5 separate regions of the Homo sapiens genome follow, and all the other regions are linked to region 3. The links come from fine-mapping of genetic effects on gene expression. A gene starts in region 3. Each other region holds a variant in brackets. All regions are shown on one strand. Distances are from middle to middle. Region 1 overlaps RRP12 (ribosomal RNA processing 12 homolog). Region 2 has its middle 18 kb from the start of FRAT2. Region 3 holds the start of FRAT1 (FRAT regulator of Wnt signaling pathway 1). Region 4 overlaps ARHGAP19 (Rho GTPase activating protein 19). Region 5 overlaps LOC105378448 (a long non-coding RNA gene).

What was found. PIP is the estimated chance that this variant, and not a neighbour inherited with it, causes the effect.
Region 1: its variant is fine-mapped to the expression of FRAT1 in whole blood (INTERVAL, PIP above 0.99).
Region 2: its variant is fine-mapped to the expression of FRAT1 in whole blood (INTERVAL, PIP 0.96).
Region 4: its variant is fine-mapped to the expression of FRAT1 in whole blood (INTERVAL, PIP 0.97).
Region 5: its variant is fine-mapped to the expression of FRAT1 in sun-exposed skin (GTEx, PIP above 0.99).

Annotation. Positions count from the first base shown.
Region 1 is chr10:97,359,751-97,364,853 of GRCh38, forward strand. RRP12 (ribosomal RNA processing 12 homolog) reads right to left here. Exons shown (of 34, transcript NM_015179.4): 30 at 4,104-4,153; 31 at 796-868. Among named protein-coding and RNA genes, the nearest start is that of FRAT2, 28 kb to the left of the region's middle. The variant T/C (reference allele first, on the strand shown) is at 2,671.
Region 2 is chr10:97,350,211-97,355,313 of GRCh38, forward strand. No RefSeq gene overlaps it. Among named protein-coding and RNA genes, the nearest start is that of FRAT2, 18 kb to the left of the region's middle. The variant T/C (reference allele first, on the strand shown) is at 2,819.
Region 3 is chr10:97,317,215-97,322,317 of GRCh38, forward strand. FRAT1 (FRAT regulator of Wnt signaling pathway 1) reads left to right here and starts at 2,057. Exons shown (of 1, transcript NM_005479.4): 1 at 2,057-4,701. The coding sequence starts at 2,240. The coding sequence ends at 3,079. RefSeq lists enhancers at 1,371-2,160, 1,898-2,192, 3,282-3,441 and silencers at 2,032-2,341, 2,842-2,941.
Region 4 is chr10:97,283,147-97,288,249 of GRCh38, forward strand. All of the region lies in intron 1 of ARHGAP19 (Rho GTPase activating protein 19), which reads right to left. All of the region lies in intron 1 of ARHGAP19-SLIT1 (ARHGAP19-SLIT1 readthrough (NMD candidate)), which reads right to left. Among named protein-coding and RNA genes, the nearest start is that of ARHGAP19, 6.9 kb to the right of the region's middle. The variant C/CT (reference allele first, on the strand shown) is at 3,040.
Region 5 is chr10:97,338,164-97,343,266 of GRCh38, forward strand. It overlaps LOC105378448 (a long non-coding RNA gene), which reads left to right. Exons shown (of 2, transcript NR_188201.1): 2 at 4,644-5,040. Among named protein-coding and RNA genes, the nearest start is that of FRAT2, 6.0 kb to the left of the region's middle. The variant T/C (reference allele first, on the strand shown) is at 2,512.

The DNA.
Region 1 (5,103 bases), 43 kb after region 3:
CTGACCCCAGGTCTCTGCCTCATCAATTGGCAGGTACTCCTGCCTCAGCATCACTCCATCCCAGGGCACAGTAGGTGAGCTGGCCCTGGCTCATGGGTGCCACAGGCGGAAGAGCCATGAGGTTGTGCAGCTGCGTTATGATGCTCTAGGGCTGAGGACACACCAGCTACTGGAATCAGAGGCTTCCCACAGGAGCCCCTGGACCTCCAGATGCAAAGCAAGGGCTCTGCTGCAAGGGCTTGGGGGCAGGGGTCCTGCAAGGCTACCCTGGGAGGAAGGAAGCAGAGGTGAAGCCACCTTGGCACTTCTAGCAGCTGCTCTAGGAGGGCAACAGCTGGTGGGCCCAGAGATAGAAATAGAGGGGAACCCTCTGGCCAGACCCAATACCAACCTTCCCAGTTCCCAGCCCTGGCACCGGCCAAGTGGCTTCTCTAAACCCAGCCTGACTCGGTTGGTGCTCTTAGGGTGACCAAGAGAGGCAAGCAGCTCGCAGAAGGGACAGACTCAAGCCTCTTGGGAGGCCTGGGCGGGTGGGAAGGAGCTGTGGCTCAGGGCTCCTCAGAAGGCTGGTGGTTCCATGCACAGATCTCCTAACCCATAGGCTCTCTCACACCCCCAGGGCCCCTTAGACTCCAGGCCCATCTTGAGTGTCATATCAGCCAACCTCTGTTGGTGCCAAGTGAGTGCAACCAGGCTGTGCACCCTCATGGCCCTGCCACCCCTTCCTGTGACTCCCCTCCCTAATGCAGGTGACAGGGATCCATGTGTCCCAGGAGAGAGGAGTGGAAGCCTCACCTTGGTACTGAGGGGGTATCTCCAGCTCCTCCTCCTCAGCCTCTTTCTGGTGCTTGAGCTTCTGGTGCTTTTTCTATAGAGAGAGAATAGGTGGGTAGTGAGTGAACCAGGGGATGTGCCCACCCTCGGGAATGCCAACAGTAACAGCAGAGTACCCTGCATCAAGCAGGAGAGGCCCTCTGCTAAGCACCCCACCTCTCACTTACAGATGGGGAAACTAAGGCCCAGAGAGGGCAAGGAACTGTCCAAGATCACAAAGCCAGGCAGTGCAGAAGAGAAGCTCTGGCCATGTCCTGACTGCCGGGCTGGTGGCGGCCGTTCCTGCTCTTCCTTTCCACTCTGGGCCCCACCCAGGCCTGCAATTGCCCAGAGGGCTTCTGACATCAGCTTACCCAGCCTTCCTAATGGGGAAAATGAGGTCCCTGGCCTCTTCAGAGAGAATAGCTTTACCAGTTCTTTGCTTCACACAAACCCCACCCCACTCTCCCTATTAATCACTCACTTACTGATCCCCTACTAAGTGCCAGGCCCTGGGGACACAGGGCACAAGATCTAGTTCCTGTGCTCCACGGGCTCTCAGGCGGGTGGGAGACCCCTGCTCAAGCCAGTCATCACTGATCCTCAACAATGCTACCATCCCAGCAGGTATGATCATGGACAGTAAGACACGTCAGCTCGTCAATTATATTCAACAGGAAGTGACAGAGCACCTACTGTGCGCCTGGCACTGTGTTAGGCAGTCCAAGGGAAGGAGGGAGAGCCCGACAGCGGCCCCAGCCCATCAGATGTGAGCCTAGAACCAACAACCAGGCCAGGCAGAGGCGTGCTGTGCAGGGAGGGCAGGCAAACAGAGGTGGCCCCAGCTGGCAAGGCTGGTCCCTGCACTGTGGTCTGTGCCACTGTGCCCCAGAAACCTCTAGAAACTGCAGATTCCCAGGGCTCCAGCTACCCAGGGGATCCAGAGGCCAACCAGGGGAAAGGTATGCCAGGTAAAGGGATCGGCCTGGGCAGAGCGAACAGGCTGCAGCACACACAGGGTGTGCCTGGGAGACGGGGGACTCCAGGTCCACTGGCCGAAGCCCAGCTGAGTGGGCTCCTAGTGGAGAAACAGGAACCGGGAGGAAGCTGACTCCGACTGCAATGTAGGGGATGATGGCTGAGCTGGCTCTTGGTTCAGCTGGTGCTTGGCCAACAGCCCAGCCTGCTGGCCCTGAATGGAGGCAGCTACTTGAACCCCAGCACTTCATGCTTCCACAATGGTTGGCCGAGGAGTTAGAACTTGGCCGGGCCCGGTGGCTCACGCCTGTAATCCTGGCACTTTGGGAGGCTGAGGTGGGTGGATCACGAGGTCAGGAGTTCGAGACCAGCCTGACCAACATGATGAAACCCCATCTCCACTAAAAATACAAAAATTAGCTGGGCGTGGTAGCATGCACCTGTAATCCCAGCTACTCAGGAGGCTGAGGCAGGAGAATCACTTGAACCTGGGAGGGGGAGGTTGCAGTGAGCCGAGATTGCGCCACTACACTCCAGCCTGGCGAAAAAGTGAGACTTCATCTCAAAAAAAAAAAAAAAAAAAGAGTTAGAACTAAGTGCCATGCAAGAAACCCTCTGGGGGTCTCAGTGGCAGGAGCCAGCCACAGAATGCAACTGCCCTGGGGCCCTCTCAGTGCCTGGAGACAAGGCATCTGCTCAGTCCCGCTCTGCCCGGGGCAGTGGGGGACATCCTTAGAAAGCCGTGGTCGGTTCTCCCCGGCCAGGGAGAGGAGTAGGCTGCCGAGGATCTGCAAAGCCACATGTGAAGATGTGCTTAAGGAACCCAGGAGGCTTTGAATGGAAAAAGATTTCCAGGAAAAGTGAATAATCAAGTCACAA[T/C]GGCTTACTTTGCATCACTAAGTGGCAAGCACTGTACACAGAAACAAAGACTTGAGCCCAGGCAGTCTGGGCCCAGACACACGTTTGGCAGACGACTGCCATCACCTGGAGAGGGAGACTAGACTGGCCTGAGGGTGGCCTCTCGGAGGGGCCCATGTCAGACCAAGCAGAGGAAGGACTCCCAGTAGGTGAAGCTGTCCCACAGGAGTGGTTGCCTGGGCGCAGAGAGGGGCAGGAGGGTTTTCAGCAGAAGCCCCACTGCTTTTCCTCAAGGGCATCCCAGAGGGGCTTCCCGCATCAGAGGCTGCTCAGGTCCTCAGCTACTCTCTGACCCAAGACTCTGGATATGTACTCAGCTCTTCAAACAGAATTCTGCGCTGTCACAATGCTCTAATAACAAACTCCTCCTCGGGCCACACTGGGCAGATGGACACTTGGCAAGGCATATGGGCAGACATTGACAAACATGACGCCAATGAAAACGGGGATGTGGGGGAAGTCTGTAACACTTCAGGCACTATGCTAATGCACTTTACACGCCCAATCTTACCAAACTGTCCCAATGACTCCACCAGGTGGTCTATTTATAACCCCACTTTACAGATCAGGAATTGAGGCTTTAAAAGGTTAGGCTGAAGCCAAGATGGGACCCCAGAGTCTGCCGCTTCCCCACCGATATCACTATACCCTGATGTAGGCTCTGTCACCTACGGGTGGTGCCCAGGAAGGCTGGATGGGCTGGGGCATAGTCTGGAAGGGCAGAGAGGGAAGAAACTGCTCCAGAATGGAAATGTTCCACTGAGCTTGAGACTGACAGGTGTTGGGTGATGGGTTGGGCCCACTTCACCCTTGTTGGTTCAGGTGGGGCAGCTGAGAGGCTGTTTCCATCCTGGCAGGCAGCACTGCCAGGTCAACAGGGGTAATGGTGGCAAAGAGGTTGAATTCCTGGGCTTAGGAGACTGGAAAACCAGGGTTCAAATTCCTGGTTTGCACAGACTGAGTCCTGTGACCCTGGGCAGGCTACTTACCTCTGTACGCTCCTCTGGTCACTGGGACAACGGAGTCCCTATCTTCGTGAGGCTATGTGGGGCCCTCAGCACAGTGCTGGGCACACAGCCATGCTCCCCTACGGTGGATGCCCCCACCCCATGCAGGAGCACACAGGGAAGCTGCTGCCCTTGCCCCTGCATAGCACATGCCCTCGCTAGAGAGACAAGGGTCTCTGCCTTCTTTCTCCTTTAACTAGACAACCATCACCCTGTCCTGCCTGGCACCCACAACCTTCTGGACCGCCTGCTATGCACACCTGTGAGGATGCACCGAGCATTCCAGAAACAGGGCAGTTCCAATGTCTACGTGTGGTGGGGGTGAGAAGCTGTGGAGCCCAGGCTTAGGTCTGAAGCCCTAGCCCCCCATCTGCAGGAACTACTCACATTCCTGATGATCACATCTTCCATTGGGTCAGCCATCTCTTCATCTTCGCCTGGAGCCAAAAAAGAGAGGCCCATGAGCGCTGTGGGAGCTCCTCAAAACCTACCCTTTCCTTCTGCCCCCTCCTGGCTCACCAGGCTGCGGGGCCACCAACTCCGGCCCCAGAAAATTGCCTTCCTCAGACCAATATCATCCTTCTGCTAGAAGAGATGAGACCCCTGAGCACTGCCCCTTTCTCCTTCCCACCCTAGGCCCTAGGGATAACGGCCCCTCAAAGAAGCGGTGATCCTACTTTTGAGGTGAATATGGCTTCGTTTGAAACTTTTCTTTTCCCACTCACCCACCCTTCATCTGTTTGAGATTTGAAGAAAGCCCCAGGTTTCCGGGGGAGTCAGGCGCTCCTGCAGCCCCATACACACCCCCACTGTGCCAGGAAGGCTTCATTCTCCTGTTTGAAATCTCTGCCCCATGCAGTATGTGCTGGGCTCCATGTGGGAATATAAAGTATGAAACTGACCAATTGGAGGGAAGAGAAACTCAGGCAAAGTCAATCAACAACCAAAAGACGATAGAGAGCACGTGACCGGCCATGTGTGGTGGCTCACACCTGTAATCCCAGCACTCTGGGAGGCCGAGGAGGGAGGATCACCTGAGGTCAGGAGTTCAAGACCAGTCTGCAACATGGCAAAACCCCATCACTACTAAAAATACAAAAATTAGCTGGGCATGGTGGCGCACGCCTGTAGTCCCCGATACTTGGGAGACTGAGGCAGGAGAATCACATAAACTCAGGACATGGAGACTGCAGTGAGTCGAGATCGAGCCACTGCACTCCAGCCTGAGTGACAGAGCGAGACTCTATCTCCAAAGAAAGCACATGACCAAGGGCTGAAGACTGGGTTTCCTCTGGGCTTGGCAGGAGTTCTGGGGGAATCAGGCCTAAAGGCTGAGGTGCCCAGGAAGGGCTACAAAAGGAGCTTTGAGCTGAATCCTGAAGAGCAG
Region 2 (5,103 bases), 33 kb after region 3:
TGATGAATGAAGGCGTTTTTAGATAAGTATTATCACACAATGATCCAATCGATACACATAAAATCTGCTCAGGGCAACACTGTGCCTTGTCATTTTTATGAGCATATTTACAACTGAGGGTTGGTCTCAGGTTATCTACTGTGTATGTAATTCAGGCTCAGTGGCCTCAAGTCCAAGAGCTATGGCATAGCAACTGTTCTGGTTAAAAACAAGACTTCTGGCCGGTCATGGTGGCTCACACCTGTAATCCCAGTACTTTGGGAGGCCGAGGCGGGCGGATCACTTAAGGTCAGGAGTTCAAGACCAGCTTGGCCAACATGGTGAAACCCCATCTCTACTAAAAGTACAGAAATTAGTCAGGCGTGGCAGCATGCACCTGTAATTCCGGCTACTTGGGAGGCTGAGGTAGGAGAATTGCTTGAACCCAGAGGTTGTAGTGAGCTGAGATCATGCCTCTGCACTCCAGCCTGGGTGACAGATTGAGACTCTGTCTCAAAAAAGCAAACAAACAAAAAACCAAGACTTCCAAGAGCTTGCAGAACCTTCACTGGTGGAGGACCATGAGGGCTATACAGGTTATTCCTGGCACCAGTTGCAAATCCATCTGCCTGTCATCAGTGCCTCACATCCTCTTTGAAATTCTGACTTAAAATCATCAGCTCTGTAATGGGTGATGGGTGACATCCCTGGAATTTGGAAATCAGGCTGCCCTCTGGAAGTTAAACCCTTCAAGTCTACACGAGGGACAGGATTAGTTATCTGAACAAGGCCCCAGAAGGAACAGGATGTCTCTCTGGTGAAAGCCAGAACTGGCCTTGGAAATTCAATCCAGGCATGCCTGCCTGTGAAGGAAGCCTTACTAAATCTCAGAACAGGCTGGGCCTGGTGGCTCACGCCTCTAATCCCAGCGCTTTGGGAGGCTGAGGCGTGGGTGGATCACCTGAGGTCAGGAGTTCGAGACCAGCCTGGCCAACATGCTGAAACCCCGTCTCTACTAAAAATACAAAAAATTAGCCGGGAGTGGTGGTAGGCATCTGTAAATCCCAGCTACTTGGGAGGCTGAGACAGGAGAATCGCTTGAACCTGGGAGGCGGAGGTTGCAGCGAGCCAAGATCGTGCCACTGCCCTCCAGCCTGGGCAACAAGAGCGAAACTCTGCCTCAAAAAAAAAAAAAAAAATCTCAGAACAGCTTCTGAACAGCAGGTAAATGGCTGCAAAGGCCCTACAAGATACCAGAGAGGAAGGATCTGTTCCATTCTGCAGCCAACCAAAATAGAGGGGCAGGGCCCCAACAGGCTGCTAGGAGAATGGGCCCCTGTAGGCAGATATATCCCCAGAGACAAAACTGTCCCACCCCAATGACAATATTATTCACATATCACTTGCATGATTCCATTTGCCCTGTTTTATGCCCCCAGTACAGAAAACACACTGGTTTCAGCTTCCTATGCAAGGGAGCATGTGCTGAGCAGTCACCTTGAGTATCTTGGGCAGTTATAGTTCTCATTATAAATTAATATATTATAATTTCGACTAGGTCTCATGTGAATCTGTATCTTCTTCTCTGAACCTGATCAATCCTGATTTTATCCTTATTTATTTATTTAGAGTTCCAGGCTGGAGTGCAGTGACTATAACAGGCTGGACCAAAGTGCATTGCAGCCTCAACCTCCTGGTCTCAAGTGATCCTCCCACCTCAGCCTTCCAAGTAGCTGGGTCTAGAGGCACATGCCACTGCACCCAGCATCAATCCCAATTTTAGACTTGTAAAGCTGATCTCCAGTCCTCAGCCCTGGAATGAGTATGCAGCAGCAAGCCACTACACCATCTACCTACGTTCTTAGTCAGTATTTACTGATGATTGACCACGGCCTCAAAACCCAAATCCAGGCATTTCCATGACGAATCATTGAGATTTGGAATGGGAGGAGGAAATGTGCCACTGCATCCCTGGCCTTGGATAACTCAGCTGGCCTCTAACAGCTTGGTGTTTCTAATGGCAGTAGCTACGTCAAGCATAATTTCAGGAAATGGCAAACCAGCTTACATTGTCCCAAATCAGGGTTATTTTCTGGAGTACAGTCATCTATCTATTCACAATAATGTATATCGAAAATAGAACATAGAGTAGTCATCACGGCATTTTCTAAATACTCCTTTGCACACGGTCTGGCATCTAGTGATGGCATTAAATTCCTGCATACAGCAAAGAACAACATACTTATGGACTCAAAGATGCTTTGTAAACTGAACTATGTCCGCTGGGCAGATGTTTAAAGCTGAGCTACTGAAAATGATGTTTATAGCCGGGTGCAGTGGCTCATGCCTATAATCCTAGCACTTGGGGAGGCCGAGGTGGGCGGATCACCTGAGGTTGGGAGTTCAAGACCAGACTGACCAACATGGAGAAACCCCATCTCTACTAAAAATACAAAAATTAGCTGGGCGTCGTGGTGCATACCTATAATCCCAGCTACTCGGGAGGCTGAGGCAGGAGAATCACTTGAACCTGGGAGGCAGAGATTGCAGTGAGCCAAGATCGCGCCATTGCACTCCAGCCTGGGCAACAAGAGTGATACTCCGTCTCAAAAAAGAAAAGAAAAGGAAATGATCTTTATGAAGCATTTACATTAGTATACGGTAAGAACTTTAGTCAAGTGCAAATTTAGAACACAAATTGTCCAGGCATGGTGGCTCATGCCTGTAATCCTAACACTTTAGGAGGCTGAAGCAGGAGGATTGTTTGTGTCCAGGGAATTTGAGGCTGCAGTGAGCTGTAACTGTGCCACTGCACTCCAGCCTGGATGACAGAGCAAGA[T/C]CTTGTCTCAAAACACACACACACATATATATATATAAAGTGTAAACTTGCATTTTAAAACATTTTTTTTTTTGAGATGTAGTCCTGCTCTGTTGCCCAGGCTGGAGTGCAGTGCCGTGATCTCGGCTCACTGCGATCTCTGCCTCTCAAATTCAAGCAATTCTCTTGCCTCAGGCTCCCAAGTAGCTGGGATTACAGGCACGCACCACCATGCCCAGCTAATTTTTTTGTATTTTTAGTAGAGACGGGGTTTCACCATGTTGGCCAGGCTGGTCTCAAACTCCTGACCTCAGATGATCCACCTGCTTTGGCCTCCGAAAGTGCTGGGATTACAGGCATGAGCCACCGTACCTGGCCCCATTTTTCCTTTTTTTGAAATAGGGTCTTACTCTGTTGCCCAGGCTGGAGTATAGTGACATGATATCGGCTCACTGCAACCTCTGCTTCCCAGGCTCAAGCTCTTCTCCCACCTCAGCCTCCGGAGGACCTGGGACTACAGGTGTACTCCATCACGCTTGGCTAATTTTTTGTAGAGACAAGGACTCACTATATTGCCCAGGCCAGTCTCAAACTCCTGGGCATAAACGATACTCTCGCCTCAGCCTCCCAAAGTGTTGGGATTACAGGTGTGAGCCATTGTGCCTGGCCTTACATTTTTTCCTTAATTAAAAAAAAAATAGCCCTACGTATATTAAGAAAAAAAAGAATGAAATGCACTAGTAATAACAGAATTTGGTGGAAGGATTTTAGCCCCTACTTTTACTTTTGTTTTTTCCAAATGTTCTGGGAATCTTTATCACTTTTGTAGTGAAATATATACGATTTTAATTTTTAAAATTACCCTTTGAGGAAACATAAGCAACCAAGAAAGAAAAAATGGGGAAAGGACTCTGAGGACTGAAAACAGGCTACCTGAACTTCATAAGCAATTTTGTTACATGTTGCAAACAGTACAGAAAAAACACCCTTCTTGGGACTGATCATGCTGTAAGTAGGACTAGCTCTAAAGATGGCCACTGGCAGGAATGAACTGCCAGGACAGTCCCCACCAAGCCTTCTGCCACAATCACGAGAAGGGAAATAGTGAAGGGGCAAGGTCAGTTTAACCTGACTCACCCATGGCCAGAAGTGTCACAATGTGGACATGACTAGACCGCCTTTGCAAATCCCCAAAGCTTGACCACTCCCTTGGCCAACTGCAGGGTTGCGGTTTTCGTAGTCAAGCAGGGTAGGACCTGTTTTCCATTTCTGAGAATGAGTGGAGGATGGACCCCAGAAAAGCAAGCCTCAGATTGACATTCCCAAAAGCACAAATTGAAAATCTGGAGAGTGAGAGCTCTCAACTTTCCTATTCACCCTAAAATTGGATGAATCTTTTGTTGATGAACACTCCTAAGACTCTCTTTCGCCACACTGTTGAAACAACACTGACTTTGTTTTTTTTTTTTTGAGACAGAGTTTCGCTCTTGTCACCCAGGCTGGAGTGCAAAGGCGCGCTCTCAGCTCACTGCAACCTCCGCCTCCCGGGTTCAAGCAATTCTCCTGCCTCAGCCTCCCGAGTAGCTGGGACTAGTGTGTGCCTCCACACCCAGCTAATTTTGTATTTTTAGTAGAGACAGGGTTTCACCATGTTGGCCAGGCTGGTCTTGAACTCCTGACCTCAGGTGAGCCACCTGCCTTGGCCTCCCAAAGTGCTAGATTACAGGTGTGAGTGATTGCGCCCGGCCTCAAGAACACTGACTTTCAAAATACACCTGAAGTTTCAGGGTGAAGATTAATTCTTGCCTCTGCATCAAGATCACTTGCATTTGAAGTCTACTTCCAAAAGAATATGGCATTCAGCACATCACTAACACCAACCTTTCTAGGTCACCTGCCTTTCCCATCTTTAAAAGAAAACAAAGTTCCTTGGAAAATGTGCTATATATAACAAGGAGGTTGGCTTCACGCTTTCTTTTTTTTTTTTTTTTGAGATGGCGTTTCACTCTTGTTGCCCAGGCTGGAGTGCAATGATGCGATCTCAGCTCACCCCAACCCCTGCCTCCCGGGTTCAAGTGATTCTCCTGCCTCAGCCTCCCGAGTAGCTGGGATTACAGGCATGCACCACCATGCCTGGCTAATTTTGTATTTTTAGTAGAGATGGGGTTTCTCCATGTTGGTCAGGTGATCCACCCGCCTCGGCCTCCCAAAGTGCTGGGATTGCAGGTATGAGCCGTGCCTGGCCTTTTTTTAAAAAACAAACAAACAACACCAATAAGCTGGGCGCAGTGGCTCACGCCTGTAAT
Region 3 (5,103 bases):
GATGACACGATCTTCTATATAGAAAATCCTAAGGAATCCACAAAAACAAGGTGATGAACCTTATGACACCCTGTAGAAATCCAGATTTCGTAGATTAGAAATCCAATGGCTTTGTTTAAACTGTCTCTTCCTCTGTTTTTACATTTTTTCCTCCACACTTGACAAAAACAAACCCAACTCTTTTTAAACCAACTTCCCTACCTCTTTCCTGCACTCATCCCTTCCTAAAGGTTTGCTCCTATAATTATTATCGTTGGAACTGCCCAACAAGACCCTCGTTTTCTATTTATCTGGATCTCCAGGCTCATTTCTTTCTTTGTATCCTATTTTCTATATCATGCTCAGAATTTTAAAGTTGCTTCCAGGCTGGGCGCGGTGGCTCATGTCTGTAACGCCAGCATTTCGGGAGGAGGGATTGCTTGAGTCCAGGAGTTTGAGACCGGACGGGCCAACATGGCGAAACCCTGTATCCACTAAAAATACAAAAATTAGCCAGGTGTAGTGGCGCGTGCCTATTGTCCCAGCTACTCGGGAGGCTGAGGTGGGAGGATCACCTGATCCTGGGAAGTCAAGGCTGCAATCAGCCAGATCACACCACTGCACTCCAGCCTGGGTGACAGAGTGAAATTCTGTCAAAGAAAGAAAAGAAAGAGAAAGAAAAGGAAGAAAGGAAGGAAGGAAGCGTATCTCCATTTTCATCCAAACAGGTATTTTTCTCTGCTACTACGTACCTCCTCAGAGCCCATCCCCCCTACTGGTCTGAGGCTTTTTTTTAAACAACTTTCTGGACATAGCCCCTCTTAAGACTAACAACCTATAGCCAGGCGTGGTGGCTCACGCTTGTAATCCCAGGATTTTGGGAGGCCGAGGCAGGTGGATCACCTGAGGTCGGGAGTACCAGACCAGCCTGACCAATATGGAGAAACCCCATCTCTGCTAAAAACACAAAATTAGGCTGGGCATGGCGGCGCATGCCTGTAATCCCAGCAACTCGGGAGGCTGAGGCAGGAGAACTGCTTGAACCCAGGAGGCGGAAGTTGTGGTGAGCGGAGATTGCGCCATTGTACTCCAGCCTGGGCAACAAGAGCGAAACTCTGTCTCAAAAAAACAAAACAAAACAAAAAGAGTAGCAACCTAGGCCGGGCGCAGTGGCTCACGCCTGTAATCCCAGCACTTTGGGAGGCTGAGGCGGGTGGATCACCTGAGGTCAGGAGTTCGAGACCAGCCTGGCCAACATGGTGAAACCCCGTCTCTACTAAAAATACAAAAATTAGCCGGGCGTGGTGGTGGGCGCCTGTAATCCCAGCTACTCGGAAGGCTGAGGCAGGAGAATTGCTTAAACGCAGGAGGCGGAGGTTGTAGTGAGTGGAGATCGAGCCACTGCACTCCAGCCTGGGCGATAGAGCGAGACTCCGTCTCAAAAAAACAAACAAACAAATAAACAAAAAGACTAGCAACCTCCTCTCCAGCAATGCCAACCCCAGTCCAGGCCCCCATCCGCCCAGGATCTCGATCAAAAAACATTAATCTGTGGCCTTTCTTTGCCATTTCCAACTCTGCCACCTCCATCGAACGACAAGGTCCCCTTCTTCCTTTCCATTCCCGTCAGCTTCATTTCCCTAATCTCCGTACAAATCCCTAGCCTGACTCCCTTTCCTTTCCATCCTCACCAGACGCCCGCATGCCGGACCTCAAAAGCGCAAACGCTAAAAACCGGTTGAGTTGACGCACGGAGAGAAGGGGTGTGTGGGTGGGTGGGTGTGTGTTAGTGTGCGTGCTTGCTTGTGTGTGGAAGAAACCAACAGGGTTCACGCTGGTGCCCATTTCTGGAAATGCCAATCGCGCCCGACTGCGGGAGCCAGGATCAGGTCCCCAGGGCGCCCTTGCAGACAGCACCCTGAGCGAAGGAGCTCAGAAGGCAGTCCGGCTTCACCCAGACCCCCAATCCCACAGAAGCGCCGTCCCCCAGCGGCACAGCACCCCCTCCCCGGCGCGGTGGTAGGGCCCGACGTGACGTCACCCATTGTTTACAAATCAACCCGAGCCGGCAGGATTCCGGCTCCCGCGGCTGCAGGCGCGCGGCTAGAGTGCCTGGCGGGCTCCGGCTTCCGCGTCCGCCCCGGCCCCGGTCCAGACTTAGTCTTCAGCTCCGCGCCCGCTCCGCCGCGGCCCACCGCGCCCGCCGGCAGCCGAGCCCCCAGCGACGCCCGCACAGCTCCGGGTGCCCAGACAGGGGGCCATGCCGTGCCGGAGGGAGGAGGAAGAGGAAGCCGGCGAGGAGGCGGAGGGGGAGGAAGAGGAGGAGGACAGCTTCCTCCTACTGCAGCAGTCAGTGGCGCTGGGCAGCTCGGGCGAGGTGGACCGGCTGGTGGCCCAGATCGGCGAGACGCTGCAGCTGGACGCGGCGCAGCACAGCCCGGCCTCGCCGTGCGGGCCCCCGGGGGCGCCGCTGCGGGCCCCGGGGCCCCTGGCTGCGGCGGTGCCGGCGGACAAGGCCAGGTCCCCGGCGGTGCCGCTGCTGCTGCCGCCCGCGTTGGCGGAGACTGTGGGCCCGGCGCCCCCTGGGGTCCTGCGCTGCGCCCTGGGGGACCGCGGCCGCGTGCGGGGCCGCGCTGCGCCCTACTGCGTGGCCGAGCTCGCCACAGGCCCCAGCGCGCTGTCCCCACTGCCCCCTCAGGCCGACCTTGATGGGCCTCCGGGAGCTGGCAAGCAGGGCATCCCGCAGCCGCTGTCGGGTCCGTGCCGGCGAGGATGGCTCCGGGGCGCCGCCGCCTCCCGCCGCCTGCAGCAGCGACGCGGGTCCCAACCAGAAACCCGCACAGGCGACGACGACCCGCACCGGCTTCTGCAGCAGCTAGTGCTCTCTGGAAACCTCATCAAGGAGGCCGTGCGAAGGCTTCATTCGCGACGGCTGCAGTTACGTGCAAAGCTTCCCCAACGCCCGCTCCTGGGACCTCTGTCGGCCCCGGTGCATGAACCCCCTTCGCCTCGCAGCCCTCGCGCGGCCTGCAGTGACCCTGGCGCCTCCGGGAGGGCGCAGCTCAGAACTGGCGACGGCGTTCTTGTGCCTGGCAGCTAACACGCCCGGGGTGGCCACAGCGCCAGCCTCAGACTGGAGGGCAAGGGGTTCCCTTGAGGGCTGCAGTTCTACTCAGGCTGGTGGAGAACTCTGGCTTTTGGAAGCGAGAGTAAAAAGCTAATGACGAGGAACCGAAAAATCGCGAGTGTTTCGCGGGTAACTGGGGTTGAGGGCCAAAATATTTGGAATGAAGGACTTTGGCCCTATTTAAGGCAGATTTTACAGAGCGCACCTCAAACGTACAAGTCAGTAGGACTCCTTATTTGGCGTGACCCGACCTGGCCGCGGAGCCTGCATTTCCTCGCAGCCTCTCAGTGCCCTCCAGCCCCGCGACCATGTGGCCACAATCCACGCTTCTCCGGATCGCGGTGCGCCGGAACCACGGAGGATGATGCCAGTTACTTGCTTTACCTTTTCAGGGCTGGCTCCTGATCCACTTTGGGGGAGGAGAACATGAGTAGATAATTTCAGGGTGCAGCCCAATCTGCCAGACTTAAAAAAACCATCTTGTGTCTTTGGAGGTGCTGCTTAATACCAAACATGCGGTGCCATGAAGGGACCCTTTGGGGGTTGAATAGGAGTTAACCCCTGCGCTCTCTTTGCAACTGTCTCTCTTCTCAGAGTGGTGGGGGAAGGCTGTACGACACGGGTGGGGAAAGGAGGTGGGGGCGGGGAGTATTGAATGGTGGTGGAAGGGTAGAGAGGCGCGGAGTGAACCCCACGCCCTGTCTAAAGTGTATTTTCAGAGCCGGCCCGCCTCTCCTCGGTTCAAGGTCACTGTTTCCTGGGCACGCACTGGGTTGCGGGACAGAGTAGCCAGGTTCTGCCGGTGCTCGGAGAAGAGCGCAGTGTTTTGCAAGTGCTGGAGTCTCCTGAGGACACGCGCGTCGCCGCCACCGCGGGTGTGGGAAAGCGCGGACGTGCTGGGCGGCTGTGCTTCGGTAGGCGACCACCGCCCCTGGCCGCGCTCCGGGCTTTCACGGAAACTCCCGAGACCGGGCCCTGGGTTCCTCCTCTCCTACTCGGCTCTGCAGTCCTACTCAAGCGGGTGGCTCTGGGATCCTGGGGGCCTGGGTTGGGGGCTAGGGAGACGCCATGTGATGGACACTCCAGGGACACACAGCCTAGCACAGCAGCTTATAATGGGCTCTCCGGGGCCATTTGCAATAACAGCTGCAATTCCCTGGATAGACGAGTTGATTTCCTCCCTCTGCCCCTCCCCCAGCCATGCCAGCTGGCCTTTGTAAGTGCAGGAAACCGAGTAGAAAATGTGACCCTCCAAATGGAGAAGCTGCAGGCTTTGCCATTGTGAACCATGGTGAAGTGCTTGGAACATACTGTTCACTCACTCTAAAGGCGCTGAGACTGTGCTGTTGTTCTCGTTTTTATAGTCAATGGCTTGTTCATCATCCAGATGTGGCTACTGACATATCTACACTTCGCACCGGAGTGTCTGGAATTGTGGCTATCCTGATTATAGGATTTTAACTTAACTGAAATGCCTGCTTTGAATAAATGTGTTGGGTTTTTTGTTTGGTTTTATTTTATACTTGCCATCAGTGAAAAAGATGTACAGAACACATTTCTCTGATCTCCATAAACATGAAAACACTTGAAATCTCTGTCAGCCTGGCTTGTGGATGGTAATTAGAGCGCCTTTGTGTCTGAGCAGCTCACTAGCTAGACAAGGTCTCCGCAGCTGGGTGTGTATTGGAGCTGGCATGAAATTAAATGAAAGTGAGGTCAGGTTTTGGACCAATCCCATTCGTTAAAACCTCAGAGCCTTTTGGATTACTAGTCAGTGATGGAGATGTGTTATAAAGCTGCCTCTATTAGCAAAGGACATCAGATCAGCCAGTCACTGCAAACTGGGAGGCTTATCTTTTTTTTTTTCTTTTTCTTTTTTTCTTCTTTCTCACCGTGGCCATTAAGTGCACTTGTTCCACAAGGTGGGCCTTAAGGCTGGGGCAGCTCTTGATTAGGAGACTGCTCACAATGTGAGCCTGGTGGTAGGAAAGCTGGGT
Region 4 (5,103 bases), 34 kb before region 3:
TATGTAGTTTCTATGGCCTAGCTGAATTTAGTTTATATCGGGTAACAGTAGCAAAACATCAGCACAAAATAAATAGGCTCCAGCATCTGTAGAAACAACCCACCCTAAAAGATGGTTAGTAAAAGTGTAGGTGAGAGTGTTCACTGAAGGTGACCAGAGGGCATCTTCAGGAGGCTGAGGTGGGTGGATCATGAGGTCAAGAGTTCGAGACCAACCTGGCCAACATGGTGATACCCCGTCTCTACTAAAAATACAAAAATTAGCCAGCATGGTGGCGCATGCCTGTAGTCCCAGCTACTCGGGAGGCCGAGGCAGGAGAACTGCTTGAACCCAGGAGACGGAGGCTGCAGCAAGCTGAGATCATGCCACTGCACTCCGGCCTGGGCAACAGAGTGAGACTCTGTCTCAAAAAAAAAAAAAATTGTATTTCAATCACTCTTTTGCTATACTGTTTCCAACCAGAAATGATGCACTTATTGGGAGGAAACTGGGAAACCAAGATAGAAATCAGATCTTGGATGGGTCATATTTTAGATAAGAGGCATTACAGTTTAAGACTCAGAAGGAACCAGACATGGTGGCTCACACCTGTAATCCCAGCACTTTGGGTTGCCAAGGTGGGAGGAGTACATGAGCCCAAGAGTTTGAGACCGCCTAGACAACATAGTGAAACTTCATCTCTATTAAAAAAAAAAAAAAAAAAACTGTCTCAATATTAATAATGGTTGTATCTATCTGGTAAATTGGAGTGGCTAGTTTACCATTTTTCTACATATTTTTCTTTCCTTTTTTTTTCTTTTTTTTAGAGACAGGGTCTCACTCTGGCACCCAGGCTGGAGCACAGTGGTGTCATCATAGCTCACTGCAGCCTTAAGCTCCTAGGTTCAAGCAATCTTCCCACCTCATCCTCCCCAGTAGCTGGGACTACAGGTGCACACCACCACACCTAGCTTTTTTCTCTTATTTTTATTTGTATTTTTTGCTTTTTGTTTTTGAGACATTGTCTCACTCTGTTGCCCAAGCTGGAGTACAGTGGTGCAATCTTGGCTCACTGCAACTTCTGCCTCCCAGGTTCAAGCGATTCTCTTGCCTCAGCCTCTTAAGTAGCTGGGATTACAGATGTGCGACACCATGCCCAGCTAATTTTTGTCTTTTTAGTAGAGACAGGGTTTCACCATGTTGGCCAGGCTGGTCTCGAACTACTGACCTCAAGTGTTCTGCCCACCTTGGCCTCCCAAAGTGCTGGGATTATAGGCGTGAGACACTCAGACCAGCCCCCATTTTTTTCTACATATTTTTCTAGCCTTCTGTAGTAAATATTATATAAGTTTATTTCATAGTGGGGAAGAGGGGAAAAAAGTATATACTGGGGGTTTTTTGAGGCAAGGTCTTGTTCTATTGCCCATGCTAGAATGGTGGCATACTCACGGTTCAGTGCATCCTTGACCTCCCAGGCTCAAGCAATCCTCCTGCCTCGGCCTTCCTAGCAGCTGAGACCAGAGGCATGTGCCACCACGCCTGGCTAACTATTTTTATTTTTAGTAGAGACAATGTCTTGCTAGGTTGCCCAGGCTGGTCTCAAACTCCTGGGCTCAAGTGATCCTACCACCTCAGCCTCCCAAAGTGGTAGGATTACAGATGAGAGCCACCACTTTTAGCCAAACTATATACTCTTAACAAAAAAGAAAGAAAGAAAAAAAAGCATATACTTTTTTTTTTTTTTTTTTTTTCCTGTGAGACTGAGTCTCGCTGTGTCGCCCAGGCTGGAGTGCAATGGTGTGATCTTAGCTCACCACAACCTCCGCCTCCCAGGTTCAAGCGATTCTCCTACCTCAGCCTCCCAAGTAGCTGCGATTACAGGTGCATGCCACTGCACCCAGCTAATTTTTTGTATTTTTAGTAGAGACGGGGTTTCACCATGCTGGCCAGGCTGGTCTTAAACTCCTGACCTCAGGTGATCCGCCCGCCTCCGCCTCCCAAAGTGCTGGGATTACAGGCATGAGACACTGTGCAAGGCCGAAAGTATATACTCTTAAAGCTTCAATGGATTTGTAGGTTGTAGATGTTCCATATAAAAAATGGCTGGACACAGAACAATGCGAATGTAGTTAACATTAATTAACTACACACTTAATAGGTAAGATGATAAACTGTTATGTTTTTTAATACAATTTTTTAAAACAAATTTATTTTTATTTATTTTTTTTAACAACAGGGTCTCAGTCACCCAGGCCAGAGTGTAGTGGCGGCATTCTAGCTTATTGCAGCCTCAAACTCTTGAGCTCAAGTGATCCTCCTGCTTCAGCCTCCCAAGTAGCTGGGACTGCGGGTATGTGCCACCATACCTAGATAATTTTCTCTTTTTTTTTTTGCTTTTTTTTTTTTTTTTTTGAGACAGAGTCTCTCCCTCTGTTGCCCAGGCTGGAGTATAGTGGCACAATCTCGGCTCACTGCAACCTCCAGCTCCCAGGTTCAAGCAATTATCCTGCCTCAGCCTCCCTAGTAGCTGGGATTATAGGCAACCGCCACACACCCAGCTAATTTTATATTTTTAGTAGAGACAGGGTTTCACCATGTTGGCCAGGCTAGTCTCGAACTCCTGACCTCAAGTGATCTGCCCGCCTCGGCCTCCCAAAGTGCTGCGATTACAGGCGTGAGCCACCATGCTTGGCCTAAGCCAAATGTAATGTTTACAGCAAAAAGTTTACAGATTTCCTATATCACTCTTTATAACACTACCGACCCAATTGTTCTGACCAAAGTAAACTTGTGCAACAATATCTGCTTTGCTTTATGCTGTGGTTTCATGCCACTTACCAGTTTATGCAGATTAATTTTAAAATTCTGTTTTCTTCCTTCCCCTCCTTCCAAGACAGGCCTTATTTACAAATATGATCAAACTCTCTAAACCTGATCATTGATAAAATGTAAAATAAAACCAGATTCAAGAAAATCCCCTGAAGAAATCTACTCCTCATTACCCTTCAGATAGAATTTAACAGCACAAATACAAAACTAGATTCAGGTTTTCTCACTTAA[C/CT]TGTGCATGTAAGAACAGACAAGTCTTCCTGGGATCAATAAAGGTTTAAACCTTTTAAACCATTTTTCTCGAAGGAACACATTACTGTCTTATTACAGAAAAAGCAATTTAACCAAAAGGCTCAGGCCAGGCACGGTGGCTCACACCTGTAATCCCAACACTTTGGGAGGCCAAGGTGGGTGGATCACCTGAGGTCAGGGGTTTAAGACCAGCCTGGCCAACATGATGAAACCCCATCTCTACTAAAAATACAAAAATTAGCTGGACGTGGTGGCACATGGCTGTAGTCCCAGCTACTGAGGAGGCTAAGGCAGGAGAATTGTTTAAACCCAGAAGGCGGAGGTTGCAGTGAGGCACGATTGCGCCACTGCACTCCAGCCTGTGCCACAGAGCGAGACTCCGTGTCAAAAAACCAAGGCTCAGAAGTCATGTTTACTAACCAATATTCCATACCTAAGGTATATGTAAATTAACAAGACATAGAACCCTTTCCACATCTTCAGACACCTCCCCTGTCCTCCAGAAACATTTCCAGGCATTCTACTGTCTGTTCCTAAGCTGGCTCTTCATGTAATAATAGTTAGCACTTTCTTTTTAAGTCTCTTTTTAATTAAAAAATACTAAGCTGTGCGTATTTCCCTACTGCCAATTATGAGGAGAAGTAGCTTTATTTCATTTCCTGCTTTCGCCTTTTCTCTTTGACCCTTAAAGGTCTGTATTATGTTTATACTATTATTGATAAAGTGGATAGTTTTTTTTGTTTTTGTTGTTGTTGTTGTTTGTACAGGGTCTCACTCTATCACCCAGGCTAGAGTGCAATGGCAGGATGATGGCTGTTTGCAGCCTCCACCTCCCGAGCTCAAGTGATCCTCCCACCTTAGCCTCCCAAGTAGCTGGGACCACAGGCGTGCATCACCACACCTGGCTATGTGTTTTTATTTTTTTTATAGGATCTCCCTATATTGCCCAGGCTAGTCTCAAACTCCTGGCCTCAGGTGATCTTCCTGTCTCTGCCTCCCCCTCCCAAAATACTGGGATTACAGGCGTGAGCCACCATGCCTGGCAGTGGATATTTTCTATTTGTGATTCCCCTTTAGTATTGTCTGCTTAAGAGTAACTTGAAGGTATAAGAAATGAAATGTGTTAAATTTTAAAGGACCATTCTACTTAATAAAAACCAGAAATGGAAGGGAGGGGGTGTTCCTCATCAACAGGTCAAAAACATAACATGGGAATCTTTATAGGCAGAGCAATTTTTCCTTGTTTAAATCTTTGGCCAGGTGCAGTGGCTCACACCTATATTCCCAACACTTTGGGAGGCCAAGGCAAGAGGAATGCTTGAGCCCAGGAGTTTGAGGCCCACCTGGGCAATATAGGGAGACTCAGTCTCTAGAATAAATTTTAAAAATTAGCCGAGTGTGGTGGCGCATGCCTGTAGTCCCAGCTACTTGAGAGGCTAAGGTGGAAGGATTGCTTGAGCCCAGAAGGTCATGGCTATAGTAAGCCATCATCATGCCACTACACTCCAGCCTGGACCACAAAGTGAGATCCTGTCTCAAAAAAAATCATAATAAGTTTTTTAAAATAAATATTTTGGCTGGGTGCGGTGGCTCACGCCTGTAATCCCAGCACTTTGGGAGGCCAAGGCAGGCAGATCACCTGAGGTCGGGAGTTCAAGACCAGCCTGACCAACACGGAGAAACACTGTCTCTACTAAAAATACAAAATTAGCCGGGCTTGGTGGCACATGCCTGTAATCCCAGCTACTCGGGATGCTGAGGCAGGAGAATCTTTTGAACCCAGGAGGTGGAGGTTGCGGTGAGCCAAGATCGTGCCATTGCATTCCAGCCGGGGCAACAAGAGCGAAACTCTGTCTCAAAAATAAATAAATAAATAAATATTTTATTAAAAGAAGTTAAAGCATTTGTAATTATTAGGAGCAGTGTTAAAATAATGATGAAAAAACAAAAAGCTGGGCAGTTCTAAATGATCACATATTCTGCATTCAATATTTACATATGTATTCATCTGTGCAAATCAGACCATTTTTCCTCTTCTTTATGG
Region 5 (5,103 bases), 21 kb after region 3:
GGGAGGCAGAGAAATGCCCTGGATTAGGAAGCAAAATACAAGATGCTAGAAAGACTCAGATGCAATTAAAAGTAATGAGACGGTATCAAAAAGGGAAGCGATGAGAACTTGTGAGCCCAGCACACTGGCTCCCTGCCTGGAAAGACACACTCTCGGACAGCATTCACAATCGCCCAGGGAAGAACAGAATTCAAGGGTTTTCTGCATTCACTTAGATTGCGTTGAAATTCTCTGCAAGGAGTTTGCTTTCCACACAGACCTTGTTTCAAGTTACCTGCCCTCAGAGACATTAGCTACAGTACAGTGGGATGAACACTAGGCTTGGGAATACCACCTGGATGGGGTCACTTTATCCTTCCGTGCCTCTGATTCCTCATCTGTAAAATGGGGGACGGTCCCTTCTTTATGAAATGGTTATATTACATGAGAATAATATGTATGGGAAGACTCATCATGTGGACCCTGAGGGTGGTGTTGGCATAGGTTCTAGGGAGCAGAAATACTCTTAGGGATGTTCGAGTTTTGTTTTTTGAGATGGAGTTTTGCTCTTGTTGCCCAGGTTGGAGTGCAATGGCGTGATCTCAGCTCACTGCAAACTCTGCCTCCCAGGTTCAAGCGATTCTCCTGCCTCAGCCTCTTGAGTAGCTGGGATTACAGGCAAGCGCCACCATGCCTGGCTAATTTTGTATTTTTAGTAGAGACGGGATTTCTCCACATTGCTCAGGCTGGTCTCGAACTCCCGACTGTCAGGCCTCTGAGCCCAGGCCAGGCCATCGCATCCCCTGTGACTTGCACGTATACATCCAGATGGCCTAAAGTAACTGAAGATCCACAAAAGAAGTAAAAACAGCCTTAACTGATGACATTCCACCATTGTGATTTGTTCCTGCCCCACCCTAACTGATCAATGGATCAATGTACTTTGTAATCTCCCCCACCCTTAAGAAGGTTCTTTGTAATTCTCCCCACCCTTGAGAATGTACTTTGTGAGATCCACCCCTGCCCACCAGAGAACGACCCCCTTTGGCTGTAATTTTCCATTACCTTCCCAAATCCTATAAAACAGCCCCACCCTTATCTCCCTACGCTGACTCTCTTTTCGGACTCAGCCCGCCTGCACCCAGGTGAAATAAACAGCCATGTTGCTCACACAAAGCCTGTTTGGTGGTCTCTTCACACGGACGCACATGAAACCAACCTCAGGTGATCTGCCCACCTTGGCCTCCCAAAGTGCTGGGATTACAGGTGTGAGCCACCGTGCCAGCCTGATGTTCAAGTTTTTTGGTTTTTGTTTGTTTGTTTTTTGTTTTTTTGAGATGGAGTTTCGTTCTTGCTGCCCAGGCTGGAGTGCAAGGCGGCAATCTCTACCGTGCCTGGCCAATACAACAAAATTTTATTCAGCCATGAAAAGGAATGAACTATTGATACATGCTATAACATTTTGCTCAAAAACATGCTGAGTGAAGCCAGACCTAATATAGGGCGGGCGCGGTGGCTCATGCCTGTAATCCCAGCACTTTGGGAGGCTGAGGTGGGCGGATCATGAAGTCAAGAGATCCAGACCATCTTGGTCAACATGGTGAAACCCCATCTCTACTAAAAAAAATACAAAAATTAGCTGGGCATGGTGGCACATGCCTGTAGTCCCGGCTGCTCGGGAGGCTGAGGCAGGAGAATCCCTTGAACCCAGGAGGCAGAGGTTGCAGTGAGCCGGGATCGTGCCATTGCACTCCAGCCTGGGCAACAGAGCGAGACTCCATCTTAAAAAAAAGAAAAAAAACAAAAAACAAAAAACCCATCTCTACTAAAAATACAAAAAATTAGCCGGCCGTGGTGGCAAGCACCTGTAATCCCAGCTACTTGGGAGGCTGAGGCAGGAGAATGGCTTGAACCCGGGAGGCAGAGGTTGCAGTGAGCTGAGATCACGCCATTGCACTCCAGCCCAGGCAACAGTGCAAGACTCTGTCTCAAAAAAAAAAAAAAAAAAGCTCATATATTGTATGGTACCAATTACATGAAATATCGACAACAGGTAAATCTATAGAGTTAGAAGCAGATTGATAGTTGATTAGAGCTGCGGGGGTGATTGAGGTAGGGGGTGACTGCTAACAGGCAAGGGGTATTCCTTTAGGGTAATGGAAAAATTTTGGAACCTGTTAGAAGTGGTGGTTGCACAGCATTGCAGGTGTACTGAATGCCACTGAAATGGCCACCCTTTGAAATCTCTATTTTTTTTTTTTTCTGAGTCTTGCTCTGTTGCCTAGGACAGAGTGGAGTGGCATGATCTTGGCTCACTGCAACCTCCACCTCCTGGGTTCAAATGACTCTCCTGCCTCAGCCTCCAAAGTAGCTGGAACTACAGGCCTTGCCACCACGCCCAGCCTTGAAATCGCTAATTTTAAGCAGGGCACTGGGCTGCAAGCTTGTAGTCTCAGCTACTTAGGAGGCTGAGGAAGAAGCATGGCTTCAGCCCAGGAGTTCAAGACCAGCTTGAGCACAAAGAGAGACCAC[T/C]TCCCCGCCCCACAGACTCTGAAAAAATAAATACATAAATAAAATAATAAAATGGCAAATTTTATGTTATGTGAATTTTGCCTCAATAAAAATAATTATATACTTTATGCAGTATTTGATCCACTTCTTTCTTCCTTTGTAGTTGGAACTGCAATCTAATCTATTTGCTGATGTAAAACAATCACATCTGGCCAAGCATGGTGGCTCATGCCTGTAATCCCAGAGCTTTGGGAGGCTAAGGTGGGAGGATCCCTTGAGCCCAGGAGTTCAAGACCAGCCTGGACAACATGGCAAAACCCCATCTCTACCAAAACAAAACAAAAAAACAATCAGCCAGGCATGGTGGGGTGTGCTTGTGGTCCCAGCTACTCGGGAGGCTGAGGCAGGAGAATTGCTTGAGCCCTAGAGGTTGAGGATCTATTGAGCTGTGATCATATCACTGTACTCAAGCCTGGGTGACAGAGTGAGAGACCCTGTCTCAAAAAAGAGAAAGAACAAACCTTCTTCATATTAGTGTGGGAGATAGCAACTCCACAATACCACTAGCACCACACAACCTGGAATAGCTATATAGATTGTTTTGAGAATTTTATTATTGCAATTTTTTTTTTAAGACAGGATCTCACTCTCTCCCCATCTGGCGTCCAGTGGCATGATCTTGGCTCACTGCAACCTCCGCTTCCCGAGCTCAAGTGATCCTCCCACCTCAGCTTCCTGAGAAGCTGGGACTACAGGTGCACACCACCACACCCAGCTAATTTGTAGATTTTCTATAGAGATGGGGTTTTGCCATGTTGTCCAGGCTGGTCTTGAACTTCCAGGCTCAAGCAATCCACCCATCTCAGCTCCCCAAAGTGCTAAGATTACAGGCATGAAGCACCACACCCAGCCTATTTATTTATTTTAGAGACAGGATCTCACTCTGCTGCCCAGGCTGAAGTGCAGTGGTGTAATCACGACTCACAGTGGCCTCAACCTCCTGGGCTCAAGCAATCCTTCCACCTCAGCCTCCCAAGTAGCTAGGACTACAAATGTGTGCCACCGTGCCTGGCTAATATTTTTTATTTTTTGTAGAAATGAAGTCTCACTGTGTTGACCAGGCTGGTCTCCAACTCCTAGGCTCCAGCCATACTCCCTTCTCAGCCTCCCAAAGTGCAATTCTCCTTCCTCAGCCACCGAAAGCCCTGGGATTAAAGGTGTGAGCCACTGCACCCGGCTCACACACATTTTGAGAATTTGAAAACAACTCTATTGTGTTAAATGCTGAAATTCTGAGGTCTGTTACAGCATCTAGCATAACCCTAATGCACAGGGATAAAGGTTATCAGGGAAAAGAGAGGTGGAGAGAGCGCAGCACATTTAAGTACCATGAAAAAGTTCATGAGTGCGGGTGGGCAAAGAGACCTGATTTGCATTTGAAGAGGAGCTCTACCCACAGAAGTGCCAGGCTTAGGGGACTGACAGAGGAGGCAGATCCCAAAGATGTGAACAGAGAAGGCAAACGCCAGTTTAGGACTGATGGAAAAATCGCAGGCTCTGATCAGACACAGCCCAATGCCTTCCTTCTTCTGCCACAGCCCAGTTGAGTTACTATTGGCCTCCATTCCAGACAGCTGCCACATTGTTTTCCAGCTCTCACAGGCCCCCTATTTCACAGAATCCCAGTGAGTGTCTCCTACACAGGGTGGCTTGCTTCATTGAGGCAATTCTGGGTGTCCCTCCCTGGGTAGTTTGGTTTCTTGGGGAAAAGAAAGGGCAGATGACTCCACCCATCTGCAGACCCCAACATGCAAGTACACTTTTTTTTTTTTTTTGGAGATGGAGTCATGCTCTGTCACCCAGGCTAGAGTGAAGTGGCATGATCTCAGCTCATTGCAACCCTGCCTCCCGGGCTCAAGCGATTCTCCTGCCTCAGCCTCCCAAGTAGATGTGATTACAGGCAGGCACCACAACTCCCAGATAATTTTTGTATTTTTAGTAGAGACAGGATTTCACCATGTTGGCCAGGCTGGCCTCCAACTCCTGACCTCAAGTGATCCACCGGCCTCGGCCTCCCAAAGTGCTGGGATTACAGGCATGAGTCACTGCACCCAGCCGCAAGTACACCTGATGCCTTCTCTTTACCATTTCAGATTCCTGCAGGTAGACACCAAGGATCTCCTCAGAGCCAGCGCTGATCTCATCCACAGAGGGATCACATGACCTCATCTGGGAAAATATAAACCCTACCCACCTGCCTGCCCATTTGGAAATGCAGACTGGAGGACGCTAAGTTCATTCTTACCTATGTACTAACAAGTACACAAGAAGATGCTCAATATCATTAGTCCTTGGGGAAATGCAAATTAGATTATAATGAGATTCCAGTGTACACCCACTAGAAGGCTATTAAAAAGGACAATACCAACTGTTGGCAACAATGTGGAGAAATGGAACCCCTCCTACGTTTCTGATGAGAATGTAAAATGGTGCAGATACTTTGGAAAACAGTTTGGCAATTTATTAAAAGATTAAATAAGCATAAACTTACTATATGACCCAGTAATTCCACTCTTAGGACTCTGCTCAAGGGAAATGAAAATATACATCCAC